Regions from separate parts of the Homo sapiens genome. Here region 2 is linked to region 1. Evidence: fine-mapped expression QTL. Tissue or cell type: prefrontal cortex. Region 1 holds a variant in brackets; the other region holds the start of a gene. All regions are shown on one strand. Distances are from middle to middle.

Region 1 (8,102 bases):
AGGAGTGCAAGGACCAGACCTAAGGCAGAGAAGAGGGGTGTCACCTGACTTGGTGAGGAAAGCCACAGATGGGAGCCTCGGGGAGGGGGTTCAAGAGGGCCTTGAAAGGTGCCTCCTTCATCCCAGACTTTGTGTAGTGGAGGGCGGGGGCTGGGCACTGTGTGGCACGGTGTGTGCCCAGGTGTGCCCACCAAGGCCACCATCATCTCCCCAGTAAGTCACTGCCCAGGGCCTGACACAGCAAGCAGTGGGAGGGACTGAGACAGTGGCTGCGATTTACCAAGTAGGTCTTTGAGCAAAGGCTGCAGTGCCTGGCCGGATCCCAGTCCTGCCTACAGCACGGTTCTAACCTCGGGAGCTGACTCTCTGCAAGGTGGGACTGGCTCCCTGCAAGACCACTGGGCTAAAGACCGGCCACTGCCCTAGGACCTGCCTTGTCAGCTGCTCTGGCCATCCAGGTAGATGGGCCTGAGAGGGCTTCAGGGCAGGCAGCCCGGGAGCAGCTTGTGTCCTCAGCTCTGTCTAGAACCAGGAGAGGCTGCCTTTTCAACCAGAGGTGCAGCCTGGAACAGATGTGGAAGACCTTCCAGTCCATGTCCCCACTTTCCTGACAGGTAAACCAAGTCTCAGGAGAAGGTCCTACTCAGGTCACACAAGGCCAGGGCTCTCCCCTGACCTCTCTTGCCTCCCTCCTCTCTCCATAAGTGGCTCCTTCTGTCAGGCCCACCAGGGATGCTGTGAGCCTGTCAGAAGGTGTTGGGGGCGGGTACAGTTACCGCTCACCACCACCCCCAACGGGGCACCGGCAGCCACGTGGTCGGAAGGGGCCTATGGCGCAATGGCCCGGAAGGCAGTGACACCATCGTTCCCGTCCTAAGAACCATCCGGCCCTTTGGGGAAGACTGGCTGTTGGGGAGGGCCAAGGGGCCAGGCACCCAGGCTTAGCGACCCCACGGCACCCTCGCCGCCTCCCCAGGTATCTGCTGCCGGGCTCTGGCAGGGGCCTGTGCCTGTGGCAGCGCACGTGGGACTGGGGTTTCTGTGTGGCTGTGCATCTGGGTCTGTGTGCGGCGTGAGGGAGACCTGTTCCGTTCACCATGGGGACTCTGGTCTGCATGTGGGGGTTCCTGGGCTGGTGAGATCCAGGGCTGTAGATGACGTCATATGGCTGTGTGCGCATGTGGCCATGTGGGTGTGGCTGTGCATGCTGTGTGATTGTGTGGGCCCTGGGGCCCCCAGGCCTGGCTGACTTTCTATTCATCCCGGGCAAGCTGGAGGCCCCACAACCCCTCCACACCTCACACCACTTCCCTGCCCAGCTTCTGAGCCTCCCTCTCCTGCCCAGCCTCTTTGCCCATCCTATTCTCTCACCCCCTGGTTCCCAGAGTTGCCTCTACATCTTGACATCACCTCCCCCTGGAAGCCTTCCAGGGATGCCCCTTCTCTACCTGTGGAGATGCCAGGTTCTCAGTGGACCACTCTCTCTGCCTGACCTCCTGGCTCTCTCCCCTTCTCAGCATCCTTCTGCCTGGCGCCTGGCCTCCCCAGTTCCCGGAGGGCAGAGGGTGCCTCTGCTCCCCACCGGCACCCGTGGGCAGACCCAGCAGGCGGGTTCTGGCGGGGAGGAAGGAAGTACTTACTGAGCAGCGTCCTCTGTGTGAGCAGTACCCCCATGCTGGGTGCCCGTGCTCCGGCCCGCGCCCGCTGGGGGTGACACCTCTCGGCTGGGAGCCCTGCAGGCTGGCAGCCACTTTATGCCCGCTGGGGCGATTGGCCAACACCTCATGAGGTGGGTGGGGATGGGGAGGGGGGAGGGCAGGCCTTCTGGGAACATGACCCCAAAAACCAAAATTTCCACGGGCGGCCAATGGGCGCAGGGCGCGGTGTATGCCCGCTCCTCCTCCTGTTTTCTTCGAATTCGTTCTTCGAGGTCAGCCCTACGCCCAAGGATGATGTAAAACCGCAGCCTCAGCCTTCCTAGGGTGAGTGGGGAGGAAAAGGGTCCATGCCATCTTCAGGGAACTGGGCCAGGGATGGGCAGGAGGGACTTCGAGCTGGGCCTCTGGAGGCCCCAGGCCAGTCTTGGCCCAGGAGCCATTGGCCTCACAGGACACGGTGGTTGGGGGCTGAGGGGAGCGAGACATCTTCCTTCTTGAGTGCCCTTCCTGCCCTCTCGCCGGGGCTGTTGGGACATCTGTGAGCGGAAACCACCGGGCTCTGGGCACAGAGCCAGACGCAGGCTGGCAGCCCCGAGATTGTGGTTCAGGCCCCAGGACCAGCATCCCCCAGCCCGGCTCCCGACGGTCTCCTTTCCCCCATCGTGCACCCTCTGCCAGGCCCACTCCCCAAAGCCAGGCCTTGTCTTTGTAGGCAGGCTCCACTGGGGAGAACTGGACACTTGGAGCAAGAGAAACAGGAGGCCAGGGTTCAAGCCTGCTGAGGTGCTGTGTGACCTGAGGCAAGTCACTTAACCTCTCTGGGCCTCAGAGACCCACAACTATAAAATGAGGAGGAGAAAAGCCTTTCCCAGCCCACCTCACAGGGTTGCTGCCAGCATGGACATAAAAGGAAAAGACCTCTGAAGGAAAAAGCAAAGATGAAGGTCTGATTCCAAGTATTAGCTGTCGAGGGGGCGGGATGGGGGAAGGAGGAGATGGGGAAGCTGTGAGCTCAGAGGGGAAGCCGGGGAGGGGGAGTTGCCGCCTTGACAGTTGGGGACCAGGTTTCACTTTCTCTGAAAGATAGCGATCTTAGGTTGGTCCTCTGCGAAAGGGCCCTGGGAACAGCGCCTCCCTAGTCAAACTGCTACTTTACTGTGGGGTAAACTGAGGCCTGGGTGAAGGCAGACAGGGAGGCCAAGAGGCTGGCCCAGGCCTATAGACCCTGCCTGGTCAGCACATCTCCCAGGCCCAGAGGAGGGTCCTTGGCCTGCACCCTAAGAAGCCCGGGTGGGAGGAGGCCCTCAGGAGTCTGGGGAGTCAGGGTGGGACTCCTGGAGGCTGCCAGGGAGGCCTGAGCTGCTCCAGCTGGAGGGAGCATGGGGTCTGGGGCGCCTGAGCAAGGAGAGCTGGGGCAGCCAGAAAGGAGGAGGTTGGATGCACCCCTGTCCATGCCTGCTCCCGATGCCCACTGTGGCCACCAAGGCAGTTGCCACCCATTCTCCCCATCACTCATTTATTCATTCGACAAACCTTTATTTGGCTCCATGCTGCACCAGCCACTCCCAGGTCTGAGGATCACGTAGTAGGCAAAAATAGGCGACCCCACGCCCAGGAGGCTGCTCTTCAGCCCCTACCCACTCCCCGGCACCCAGGCTGGGACTCACCACACCAGGCCTCATACCTCCCCCTCACCACCCCCAGGGGCCAGTTCTGGATTCTCATCCTGAGAATGTCGCTTCCGCTGAAGTCCTCATCTCTGTGCCCACCCCCACAATGCTGTTTCCTGGGGCCATGCCAAGAGGGGATCCTTCTCCATTTCACATCCCTGATCTCGTCTTTTTTTCTCTTTTTTTAAATGCAGGATCTTGCTCTGTCACCCAGGCTGGAGTGCAGTGGCGCCATTGTAGGTAGCTCACTGTGGCCTCCAGCTCCTAAGCTGAAGCAAGGCTCCCCGCCTTAGTCTCCTGAGTAGCTGAGACCACAGGCATGCATCACTATGCCCAGCTAATTTTTTTATTTTTTGTAGAGACGGGGTGTCACTATGTTGCCCAGGCTGATAACAAACTCCTGGGTTCAAATGATCCTCCTGCCTTGGCCTCCCAAAGTGCTGGGATTGCAAGCGTGAGCCACAGCACCCAGCCACCGATCTCATCCTGCAACAGCCAGGGGAGAGAAGCCGCTGGGCAGTGACACCTCAGCTCACTTCAGTGAGGAGCTCGAAGCTCTGGGAAGTTTAGGGGCTGGCTCAAGGAAGGAGCGCCAGATCTGAGCAGAGGGGTCTAGGCCATTTTCAGCTGTGGCTGACCGACCACCACGCTTGGTGAGAAACAGCCACATGCCTTTATCTTATTCTATCTATCCTGTGGTCCAGGGAGGCCGTGCTGTCTCCTCATGGCAGAGAGAGGAGGTTGCTTTGTCTGAGGTCACCTATGAATAGTTAAGAGGAGAGGGGCATTTGGCCAGGCATGGTGGCTCAC[G/A]CCTGTAATCCCAGCACTTTGGGAGGCCGAGGCAGGAGGGTCATTTGAGCCCAGGACTTCGAGACTGTGTCTTTACAGAAAATGTAAAAATAAATTATCCAGACATCGTAGTGCATACCTGAAGTCCCAGCTACTAGGGAGGTTGAGGCAGGAGGATCGCTCGAGCCCCGAAGGTTGAGGCTGCAGTGAGCCATTATCATGCCACAGGACTCCAGCCTGGGTGACAGAGCAAGGCCCTGTTTAAAAAAAACAAAAAACAAAAAACCCACCAAGAAAAGAAGGCATTCAAACGAGGCCCAAAGACCATACTCTTTGCACATAGTTAATGAGGGTGTCAGGCACAGGGCCCAGGGCTCAGAGTCACTGAAGGTAAGGAGAGCAGGTAGATTACATTGCTAGGACTCCCATAACAAAGTACCACAGACTGGGGGGCTTACGTAACAGAGATTTATTTTCTCACAGTTCTAGAGGCTGAAGTCTGAAATCAAGGGCTGGTTCCCAAGGCCTCTCTCCTTGACTTGTAGATGACTGTCTCTCCCCGTATCTCCACATCATGTTCCTTCTGCTTGTCCGTGGCCTAATCGATTTTTTTTTTTTTTTGAGACAGAGTCTAGCTCCGTCACCCAGGCTGGAGTGCAGTGGCACGATCTCAGCTCACTACAACCTCTGCCACCTGGGTTCAAGCGCTTCTCCTGCCTTAGCCTCCTGAGTAGCTGGGATTACAGGCGTGTGCCACCACGCCAGGCTAATTTTTGTATTTTTAGTAGAGACAGGGTTTCGCCATGTTGTCCAGGCTGATCTCGAACTCCTAACCTCAGGTGATCCACCTGCCTCAGCCTCCCAAAGTGCTGGGATTACAGGAGCGAGCCACCGCGCTTGGCCTTATCTCTTCTTATGAGGACACCATTCACATTGGATTAGGGCCCACTCACATTTTACCTTAATTATTCCTTTTTTTTTTCTTTTTCGAGACAAAGTCTTGCTGTGTTGCCCAGGCTTAAGTGTACAGTGGTGCTTTCATAGCTCACTGCAGCCTTGAACTCCCGGCCTTAAGCGAGCCTCCTGCCTCAGCCTCCAGAGTAGCTGGGATTACAGGTATGTGCTACCACACCTGGCCAATTTTACCTTAATTACTTCTTTTTTTTTTTCTTTTCTTTTTTTTTTTTTTTTGAGATGGAATCTCACTCTGTCACCCACGCTGGAGTGCAGTGGCGCCAGCTTGGCTCACTGCAACCTCTGCCTCCCAGGTTCAAGCAATTCTCTGCCTCAGCCTCCCGAGTAGCTGGGACTACAAGTGCCCACCACCATGCCTGGCTAATTTTTGTATTTTTTTAGTAGAGACGGGGTTTCACCATGTAGGCCAGGCTGGTCTCGAACTCCTGGCCTCAAGTGATCTGCCTGCCATGGCCTCCCAAAGTGCTGGGATTACAGGCGTGAGCTACCGCACCCGGCCCTTAATTACTTCTTTAAAGGCTCAACTTCCAAATACAGTCACGTTCTGACACACGATGGTTAGGACTTCAACACATGAGTTCAGGGAAGACACCATTCAGTCCATGCAGCCTGCAAGAGGAAGGCATAGCTGGAGGGCACAGGGGCTGGGGCCACTGTCGGAGCATCCAGAGTGAAGTGATACACAGGAGGACAGGGAGTGGCTCGGAGGTGAGGAGGCCTGGCCGCTGACCATCCCAGCCAAGCGTGAGGAAAGATGCGTCAGCGTTTCTGGTGAGGTCAGCAATCAGTGACGTCCCTCTCACCAGCAGGAAAAGCTTGCAACATGGCCCAGCCAGTATAAATAGGCTCCCCGACCACAGGACCCGGGCTGTCCCCTCTTCCCGGGCCACGTCAGCCAGGCCCGCGTGATTTGGAGAGGAAGAGAGGACCAGCTTGGTTCCTCAGAACTGCTGCTTCCTCGCTTTCCGGCTTACCCTCTGCTGTGGGGCCCTACGCCTTTAAATGCAAGGATAGGACCTGAGATGGCCTGGCAGGGCCAGGTCGAAACTGGAGGCTGGGGAGAGGTGCTCTGGTGGGGGGAGAGAAGGTGGCCCCCAATCTGCTGGGTGGGAGGTGGAGACCAACCCAAGTTCCATCTCAATCTGCCTGTGAGCCCAGTGTCCCTGGACCAGTCATGTCCCCCTTCTGAGCCTCAGTTTCCTCTTTTTAAACTGCAATGACAACTGAACAACAATGAAAAAGACAAGCAATCCAATTTAAAAATGGGCAAAGGATTTTAATAGACATTTCTCCAAAAAAAAGAAGATATACAAATGGCCAAGAAGCACGTGAAAAGATGCTAAACACCAGGGAAATGCAAATCAAAACCACCATGAGAAGCCATTCCACATTCACTAGGGTGGCTATAATCAAAGGTAGACAATTACAAGTGCTAACGAGGAGATGGAGAGATGAGAACCCTGGGGCATTGCTGGTGGGAATCTACAATGAATGGTGCCACCAAATTGGAAAACAGTTTGGCAGTTCCGCAAATGGTTAAACACAGAGGCCAGAGGCAGTGGCTCACGCCTGTAATCCCAGCACTTTGGGAGGCTGAGGCCGGCAGATCACTTGAGGCCAGGAGTTTGAGACCAGCCTGGCCAACGTAGTGAAACTCCAACTCTACTAAAAGTACAAAAAATTACGCAGGCATGGTAGCACTCGCCGGTAGTCCCAGCTACTCGGGAGACTGAGGCAGGAGAATTGCTTGAACCTGGGAGGCGGAGGTTGCAGTGAGCCAAGATTGTGCCACTACCCTCCAGTCTGGGTGACAGAGTGAGACACTGTCTCAAAAAAAAAAAAAATAAATAGAGATATCATATAACCAACAATTCCACTCCTAGATATACACCCAAGAGAATTGAAAACATAGGCCAGGTGCAGTGGTCAGACCTGTAATCCCAGCACTTTGGGAGGCCAAGATGGGAGGATCACTTGAGCCCAGGAGTTCAAGACCAGCCTGGCCAAAAAAGTGAGACCCCATCTCTACAAAACATTTAAAAATTAGCTGAGCATGGTGGCTTGCACCTGTGTGGTCCCAGCTACTCAGGAAGCTGAGACCGAAAGATCACTTGAGCCTGCGAGGTCAAGGCTGCAGTGAGCCATATTCATACCACTGCACTCCAGCCTGAGTGACAGAGTGAGACTCTGTCTCTGGACAAAAAAAAAAAAGAGGCTGAGCACGGTGGTTCACACCTTTAATCCCAGCACTTTGGGAAGCCAAGGCAGGTGGATCACCTGAGGTCGGGAGTTCAAGACCAGCCTGGCCAACATGGTGAAACTCCATCTCTACTAAAGATACAAAAATTAGCTGGGCATGGTGGCGCACGCCTGTAATCCTAGCTACTCAGGAGACTGAGGCAGGAGAATCACTTGAATCTGGGAGGTGGAAGCTGCAGTGAGCTGAGATCGCGCCTTTGCTCTCTAGCCTGGCAACAAGAGCGAAACGCCAAAAAAAATAAGAAAGAGAGAAAGAGAGAGTGGGAGAGAGGGAGGAAGGAAGGAAACGTACATCCACACAAAAACTTGCAAATGTTCATAGGAGCAATTATTCGGCATAGCCAAAAAGTGGAAGCAACCCAAATGTCTGTCAATAGAAAATGGATAAACAAAATGTGTTCTATCCATACAAAGGAATATTAAGTCACAAAACGGAAGGAAGCATTGCCATGTGCCACAACATGCATGAACCTTGAAACCATGATGCTGCATGAAAGAAGCCAGACACAAAAGGCCACATGTTGTATGATTCTGCTATGGGAAATGTCGGGAATAGGCACATGGAGAGACACAGAGAATACACCAGTGGCTGCTGGGGGCTGGGGCATCCAGGGCTGGGGAGAGACTGCTAATGGGCACGAGGTTTCTTTGGAGGTGATGAAGATATTCTGGAATTACATAGTGGCGATGGTTGCACAACCATGTGAATATACCCAAAACCCCCAAATCATACACTTTAAAATGATACAAT
Region 2 (8,102 bases), 390 kb before region 1:
ATACCTTCCTATAGTGTTGTTGTAAAGATTACATTACCTTTAAATTTTATTTTATTTTATTTATTTCTGAGACAGAGTCTCGCTCTGTCACCCAGGCTGGAGTGCAGAGGCACCATCTTGGCTTACTGCAACCTCTGCCTCCCGGGTTCAAGCAATTTTCCTGAGTAAGCAATTTTCCTCCGGAGTAGCTGGGATTACAGGCACCTGCCACCATGCCTGGCTAATTTTTGTATTTTTAGTAGAGATGGGGTTTCACCATGTTGGCCAGGCTGGTCTCGAACTCCTGACCTCAGGTGATCTGCCCGCCTCGGCCTCCCCAAGTGCTGGGATTACAGGTGTGAGCCACCGTGCCCGGCCTAAGATTACATTAGATATACATGTAAAGTGCTCGTATAGCGCCCGCCACAATTGAAAGGTTCAATCCAGCCAGTTGCAGTGGTGAATACCTCTAGACCCAGTAGGGAAGCCGAGGCAGGAGGGTTGCTGGAGCCGGGGAGTTGGAAGCTGTAGTGTGCTGATATCTGGTCGGTGAATAGCCACTCACTCCAATTCATGTTAGCTATTATGAAAATGAGAAGGTGCAAATAGTGTGATTTCATGGGCATAGAGAAATTCCTCCTATGTCCCAAATACTGGTTGAAGATTCAATTGAAGATTATTTAGCCCAGATTAAAAGGCAAACACGATGACATTCCGTCTAAAAAGAGGTCAAAATTACAAGCCATCTCCTTCGCTCTCCCATGGTGAATTGGGGAGCTGTGGGATTGGTTGAGTGTATGCTGACTGCCTATTGGCAGAACTCTTTGCCCTGTGCCTTCTCATTGGAAGCTAGGTGGCCTATGGGTGGGCTGTCCTGGAGTCAGGTGCTAGCTTCAGTCCAATCAGAGGCCACCAACCTGTGGCAGTTCGTCCTATGGCCTTTCCCTGAGCAGATGACTGGTTAAGGGAATTTCCCTGCGGGGGGGCTTAATGGCTGATGAGAACCTTGGTTTATCAGACAATGGGAAAAACAGGTTGGAAAGTCCTTTTTTTTTTTTTCTTAATTTTTAAAGTTTAAGGCTGGGCGTTGTGGCTTACCCCTGTAATCCCAGCACTTTGGGAGGCGGAGGCAGATGGATCGTTTGAACTCAGGGGTTTGAGACCAGCCTGGGGAACACGGTGAGACACCACCCCCACCCCCCGTCTCTATGAGAAATACAAAAGTTAGCCAGGTGTGGTGGAGCACGCCTGTAGTCCCAGCTTCTCAAGAGGCTGAGGTGGGAGGATGGCTCGAGCCCTGGGAGGTAGAGGTTGCAGTGAGCAGAGATCCAGCCACTGCACTCCAGCCTGGACAACAGAGTGAGACCTTGTCTGAAAATAAAATAAAATATAAAAATAAAAAGAGGCCGGGCACGGTGGCTCATGCCTGTAATCCCAGCACTTTGGGAGGCCGAGACTGGTGGATCACCTGAGGTCGGGAGTTCGAGACCAGCCTGACCAACATGGAGAAACCCCGTCCCTACTAAAAATACAAAAAATTAGCCGGGTGTGGTGGCGTATGCCTGTAATCCCAGCTACTCGGGAGGCTGAGGCAGGAGAGTCGGTTGAACCCGGGAGGCAGAGGTTGCAGTGAGCCAAGTTCCCGCCATTACCCTCCAGCCTGGGCAACAAGAGTGAAACTCTGTCTCAAAAATAAAATAAAATAAAATAAAATAAAAAAACTTTAAATCATTCATCAATTTTAGTATTTACTGTTTCTTCTCCCATTCCATTAAGCCTATAGTCAGTCATAGAACAGAAAGGGAAAATCAGGGCAGCCACATATAAATACAGGTGCAAAGTTGAGGCAGGAGTGGACCCTCAAGGGCCAAGAAGAGGTCATTGCTGAGCTTCACATTTAGCCCTGGGCTTTCTGGAAGCCAGAGTGAAAAGAGAGACACAATCAGATGCGTAACAGTTATCAAAAAGCAGGAAGCACACCGGTTTTTCTGGTAGTAAAGCAAGGGCTTTCCAAGCTTTTAACTCTAAAGTAATTTATTTCGTTCTTTCTTTTTTCTCTCTCTGACACCCAGATTGGAGTGCAGTGGCACAATCAGGGCTCACTGCAACCTCTGCCTCCCAGGCTCAAGCCATTCTCCCACCTCAGCCTCTCAAATAGCTGGGACTACAGGCGTGCACCACCACGCCTGGCCAGTTTTTTGGTATTTTTTGTAGAGATGGGATTTCGCCATGTTGCCTAGGCTGGTCTCGAACTCCTGAGCTCAAGCAATCCACCTGCCTCGGCCTCCTAAAGTGCTGGGATTTCAGGCATGAGCCACTGCGCCCGGCCTAAAGTAATTTCTTACTTGAGATTTTATTTCAGGCTACTGTGTCCATGCACTGGGCAGTACAGCCTGGTGGGTAAGACAGCACAGTATTTTTTTTTTTTTTTTGTCTGCTGGGTTTGAATTTTGTTTTAATACACGCAATTTATTCTGTGCTTCACTTTCTTCATCTGTAATATGGAGATAATGGCATCTACCTATTAAAGTTGTGAAGATTCAATTAGATGAGTTGTATGAATAAATGTTAGCTGTTAGTTTAGTTTCGTTTTTTTGAGACGGAGTCTTGCTCTGTCGCCCAGGCTGGAGTGCGGTGGCGCAGTCTCAGCTCACTGCAACCTCCGCCTCCCGGGTTCAAGTTATTCTCCTGCCTCAGCCTCCCAAGTAGCTGGGATTACAGGCGCCCGCCACCATGCCCAGCTAACTTTTGTATTTTTAGTAGATCCGGGGTTTCACCAAGTTGGCCAGGCTGGTATCGAACACCTGAGTTCAGGTGATCCACTCACCTTGGCCTCCCAAAGTGCTGGGATTACAGGCGTGAGCCCCCGCGCCCAGCCAGCTGTTAGTTAATCAAGAAATTCGACTGCCTACTACTTAACCTGCACAGTTCTAGGTGCTGGGGAAACAGTGACGAACAAGACAAGATCCTTATCTTCAAGTAGCTTTTACATTTTAGTGGAGTAAAATGACAGTAAACATTGAAAATAAATTTCAGAAAGTGCTGTGGAAAAACTTTACAACAGACGCAGGAATAGATTTCATTTGACTAGTTCTCCCAGTTTCCAGAAAAGTCAAGGGTAGAATGTTAAAAGGCAACTCAGAGGAGGTGAATCTGTTAGGGCCTACGGTAATGCAATCCTGGTTTGTGGAATTCTGCAGGCTAGTGTGGGTAGGTTACAATTTTTTGGGGGAGTTGTTTTTTACTTTGTTTGAAAACTCACTTCTTCCCGCTGAGCTTTTGATTAGGAGCTGAAGTTGAATCAGTTTGAAATTGTATTCTGGACCGGATGCGGTGGTTCATGCCTGTAATCCCAGCGCTTTGGGAGGCCGAGGTGGGTGGATTGCTTCAGCCCAGGAGTTTGAGATCAGCCTGGACAAAATGGCAGAAACCTCATCTCTACAAAAAATACAAAATTTAGCCGGGCATGATGTTGTGAGTCTGTAGTCTCAGCTACTCAGGAGGCTGAGGTGTGAGGATCGCTTGAGCCCGGGAGGCAGAGGTTGCAGTGAGCCGAGATGCCACTGCACTCCAGCCTGGGCGACAGAGCCAGACTCTGTCTCAAAAAAAAAAAAAAAAAAAAAAAAAAGAAAAGAAAAGAAAAGAAATTGTATTCTGAATACAACTTCTAAAACACTATATTTACTTGCATTATATTAAACTGGTTTTATCCTGACCACAATTGCAGGTGGAAGATACCACTATTGTTCTATTTTTCTGGTAAGTAGAGTGAGCCATGTCTTGCCCAGGGTTACAGAGCTTGGAAAAGACGCCTCCTAAAAATCTGTAGGACCACCTTTGGTTTTCTTCCAGATTTTTTTTTGTCATCTCTTTTCCTCCACCCATTTCCCATCTGTCTAGCCATTCTTGCTCCGCTGGGCTTTTTCGCGAGCCTCTCCCCAGCTGCAGCCCCGCCCATCTCCTGGGGCGTGACCACCTGTCCAGGCCCCGCCCCCGTCCAACCGGCGGAGACCCGCCCCCTTTCCCGGACACCGGGCTCAGCGCCCGAGCGTGCGCGCGCGTCCTCGCTCGTCGCCCGGCTCGGCGTCGGGAGCGCGCTCTGTGTGGCCGCTGCCGCCATGTTGTTGTGGTTGTGAGAAGGCGGCGGCGGCGGCGGAGTAGCAGCCGGACGAGACGTCCCAGCGGCTCAGGCGCTGCCCAGCGCCGGCCCTGGCAGGGAGCCTGGTGGGGTGGCGGAGGGGGAGACTGTGCCGTGGAGGGCCTCGCCATGTCCTGCTGCCCGGTAAGAACCCCATCCCCGTCCTCCGTCTCCTCGGCGGGTGAGGAAGAGCTGGAGGAGGGGCCGGCCTCGGCCCCGGCCCTGGCCAGGCGGCTGTCACCCTCTGAGGAGGCAGCGCCCTGGGAGGGCTGGGGACTGCGTGCGGGGCCCGGGGAGGGGCGTCCCCGGCGGCTGTCGCCGCCAGGGGGAGGCGCTGGGTGTGGGAGTGGGAATGGGAGCTCGGCGGCCGAGCTCGGCCCGGACCCTAGATGCGGGGGAGGCGGGGTCCCGGGCTCGGGCTGCCTTCCCAGACCTGGCGGGGATGGGCCCGTGCGGCTCTGGGTGTGGGACGTACCCTCGGAGCGCCCGGAGTTATTCCCACGAACTCCCGGGAGGTGGGTGTGCGCCCTTCGCCCCCTGCCGGGTCTGTGGCGGTCCATCGTTGCCGGATACTGGAGGTCAGGGGCCATGGGAGCCCCGGGGCGAACGGTGCGGGCCTGGGCCTTGTGGAAAGGAGGAGTGACCGCCCGATCGTGCAGCAGGGCATCCCCCTGACCTGGTAGTACTTAGGTGGGTAGGATGATTGGGGGCGGTTGGCGTAACTGAGGGAACCCTGGTCAGACTGCTCCGCAAATGATTACAGTGTTATTTCTCCGGTAGTAATTTTGCTTGATGTATGGCATTTCCGGACCCATAAGATGATACTGTAGGTTGTATTTTGGACTGGAAAACTTATGTCAAAATTATGGGGTAGATTTTTTGGCCACATTAATAGACTCCCCTGGAATTTGATAATCTCACTTGTGAGTTTTGGACATGGACTGCTATTACATATTGATGTTCAAATGTCCTTTCCAGACCCAGGCCTAAATTCTTACTGTTGTAGTATCTTGATTCTGACATCTATTTTTCCACAACCCAAACAAACAAAACAAAACAAAACAAAACCCCAAAACCATATACTTTTCTAGTTAAGGTTCAACTTTCTCATATGTGAATGGTAATGCCATAAGAGGCCTGGGTTGAATTACAGGAGATTATTATTATTTTTTTCAATGTGAAATGTTTGTGATTTGTCCATGGAGAGGTGGTGGGGACCTTCCCCTTTCAGATTCAGGGCTGTTCAGTAGGACAGGAGACATTGATGGCATGCAGAAAGTCTTCCCTTTATAGGGCCTATGACTTGGGTAGGCTAGAAGAGCTTACAGAATGACACTTTTTTTTTTTTTTTTTTTTTTTTTTTTTAAGACAGAATCTCTCTCTCCCGCCCAGGCCGGAGTGCAGTAGTGCGATCTCTGCTCACTGCAACCTCCGCCTGCCAGGTTCTAGCAATCCTCCCACCTCAGCCTCCCAAGTAGCTGGGATTACAAGTGTGCGCCACCACGGCTGGCTAATTTTTGTATTTTTAGTAGAGACGGGGATTTCACCATGTTGGCCAGGCTGGCCTGGAACTCTTGACCTCAAGTGATCCGCTTGCGTTGGCCTTCGAAAGTGTTGGGATTATAGGCGTGAGCCACTGCCGCCAGCCAGAATGACACTGTTTTGAGTAAACCCAGTATAGTATGTGATATTAAATTAAATTTGGAGGATTCTAGAATTTTAGATTGGCTGCCTATGAATACCTCTTTTGGCTCCAATTACTCCCTCATTTTCAGGTGACTCAGAGAACTTCAAGTGACCAGCACAGTGGTACAGCCCCGCTTGTCGTTAATGACCAGCCATAAAAAACCCTGAGTTTCTCAGCTCATAGGCCAGGTTCTTCAGTGGTTGTCTAGTTTAAGGCTGGTCATTAGAAATATTATGGACTACCTAAATTCCTCGAACTCATGCAGGACCTGGTGAATTAAAATCTCTGAGGATAGAGCCTGGGGATCTGTCCTTACAAAGCTCCGTGAATGATTCTGGTCAGCAAGGCATGTGAACTTTTGCTTTAGGTTGGGTATTCCAAAGAAGTCCCATTAATTATGACTTCTCAGGGTGCTTTTGTTTATAGATCTTTAAGAATTTAAGAGGTGGAGAAGGGGAAGCATGAGAAACTTAAAGAGATGCAAATTGAGCATCTCTTAAAATATAATGGATTTATGTAGGGGAAACAGATTTGTTGCCAAAAGTTAATTTGCAAACAAGTTATTAGGAACACACTTGATAAAATTAGATGCTGATTAATTGGAGATATACTGTATCCAGAGATATATTGAAGGATCCAGAGGAAATAAACAGAGAAGGAGAGGGAGTAAGTCGGCTTCTGGCTCATAAAGGGGTCCACTGAAGATGCTTCCCACCATTATGGTTGCTCCTAAACCATCTGACTCAGATTTCTAGTGGAGGGTAGGATGGGTGTGTTAGCAATCATTTGAGACCCGGGTTGTGAACCAGGAAGGGTTACTATGTATTGTGAAAAGTTCTTGAGATTTGCCGCAGGCCATGAGGAGTGGTAAAGTCAGTTTAAAAATCTGCTGTAGTTCTAGTTAACACGTTCACACCTTCTTCAGTAAAGTGGAATGCTGTTACCAAAGGAAGTATTCGTGTTTTAGAGGGGGGTGTGGTGAAGGTTCTTACAAGTTTGGAAGAGGTGGAAGAAAATGTTGTTACAATTGTGTAGAGTAGTGAAGGGCTTTGGTAAATATCCTGTCAAATCATAGAGTAGTATTTTTAGAGTTGCACCCAGCTGTCCATTAGAAGAGCCAGAGGCCTTGTCTGTTTTGTTCCCTGGTGTCCCCAGTATCCAGCGCAGTTATCCGCATATTCTGTGCCCTCAGATATTTTTTAATTAAGTGAATACTATTGATATGGGAAAAAGAACAGTTATGGTGGTTTATAGCAGTGTTAGTTATTAAAAGCTACCTGATATTTTGCAATGGATTAAAGAGCCAATTTTTGATCAAATAGGGCTCTGGGTAGGAAAGAAAATGAAAATGAAGAGCCAGCTTTCAGTGCTTATTGTTTGGAATTTTTGAGATTCCTTTAAGAAATTGTTTTCTAAAGACTGTCATGAACATTATCGAGTCCCCTAGTTTTTGAGTCTTAATGAATCTTAAGTGTTTCAGATGTTAGTTACTTTTTTAAGAGCACAGTAAGTGCAAAGGTAGTATAGAATAGTGGGAAGTTCTGGATTGACAGACATATATTCTGATTCCATCTGTGTCATTTATTGCTGTTGGGAATGTCACTTAACTTCTCTGGGCGTCAGTTTTCTCATATATACAATTAAGGGCCTATAGTCTTTGACCTCAAGTAGTTTCTCTAGCCTGATTCTGCAAATTTTTAATCATTTCTAATTATGTTATTTGGTATTCATCTCATATAGGTAGATGAACTTTTATTATTTAAAAGAAACAAGATTCTGTGTTGGGTTCTGCTTTTAGCTTATGGATTTTAGACATTGTCCAAAAGTGCTTCCGATGTTGAATGTATGTTGCAAGTGTTATGTAGAAAGAACATGCTTATGCTGTTGTAATTGGCTTAGTGTTGAAATCAAATTGGGTTTTACATTGGGAACTTCATAATTTAGTGTGAAGTCATGAGACTTGAGAATGGTTTGGGGGGAGTTTGTGCAATTTATATAGCTAGCTGTTTCTTACCACCTAATTCTGTAATTTTCTATGATGAATATATAGATAAATTTATAATCAGTGTAACATTGATTTAAGTTATAAGATGATATCAGATTCATACTGGATTGAACTAGAACTCCCAGTAACTTTAGAGGCTACCAAATTATTAACATGTCATTGCTATTTTTAATCTTAATTTTGTGATATCAATACTGATATGCTTTCATCTTTGCTTTTGTATCTAGAAACAATATACCTTTTAAGTTCATATTTGTATCAGATATTAAAAATGAAAATTGTAGCATGAAAGT

Direction of the effects. Alleles are on the strand shown, and positions count from the first base shown. SD is a standard deviation of normalised expression in the study named.
In carriers of allele G in region 1, the expression in prefrontal cortex of the gene that starts at base 4,076 in region 2 tends to be lower than with A alone (moderate effect, 0.41 SD a copy in GTEx).

What was found. PIP is the estimated chance that this variant, and not a neighbour inherited with it, causes the effect.
Region 2: MTMR3 starts here. The variant in region 1 is fine-mapped to the expression of MTMR3 in prefrontal cortex (GTEx, PIP above 0.99).

Annotation. Positions count from the first base shown.
Region 1 is chr22:30,265,126-30,273,227 of GRCh38, forward strand. OSM (oncostatin M) reads right to left here and starts at 1,726. Exons shown (of 3, transcript NM_020530.6): 1 at 1,641-1,726; 2 at 1-19. The coding sequence starts at 1,674. RefSeq lists enhancers at 890-969, 1,030-1,129. The variant G/A (reference allele first, on the strand shown) is at 4,139.
Region 2 is chr22:29,879,099-29,887,200 of GRCh38, forward strand. MTMR3 (myotubularin related protein 3) reads left to right here and starts at 4,076. Exons shown (of 20, transcript NM_021090.4): 1 at 4,076-4,261. RefSeq lists silencers at 788-887, 3,889-4,058, 4,119-4,618 and an enhancer at 3,882-4,176.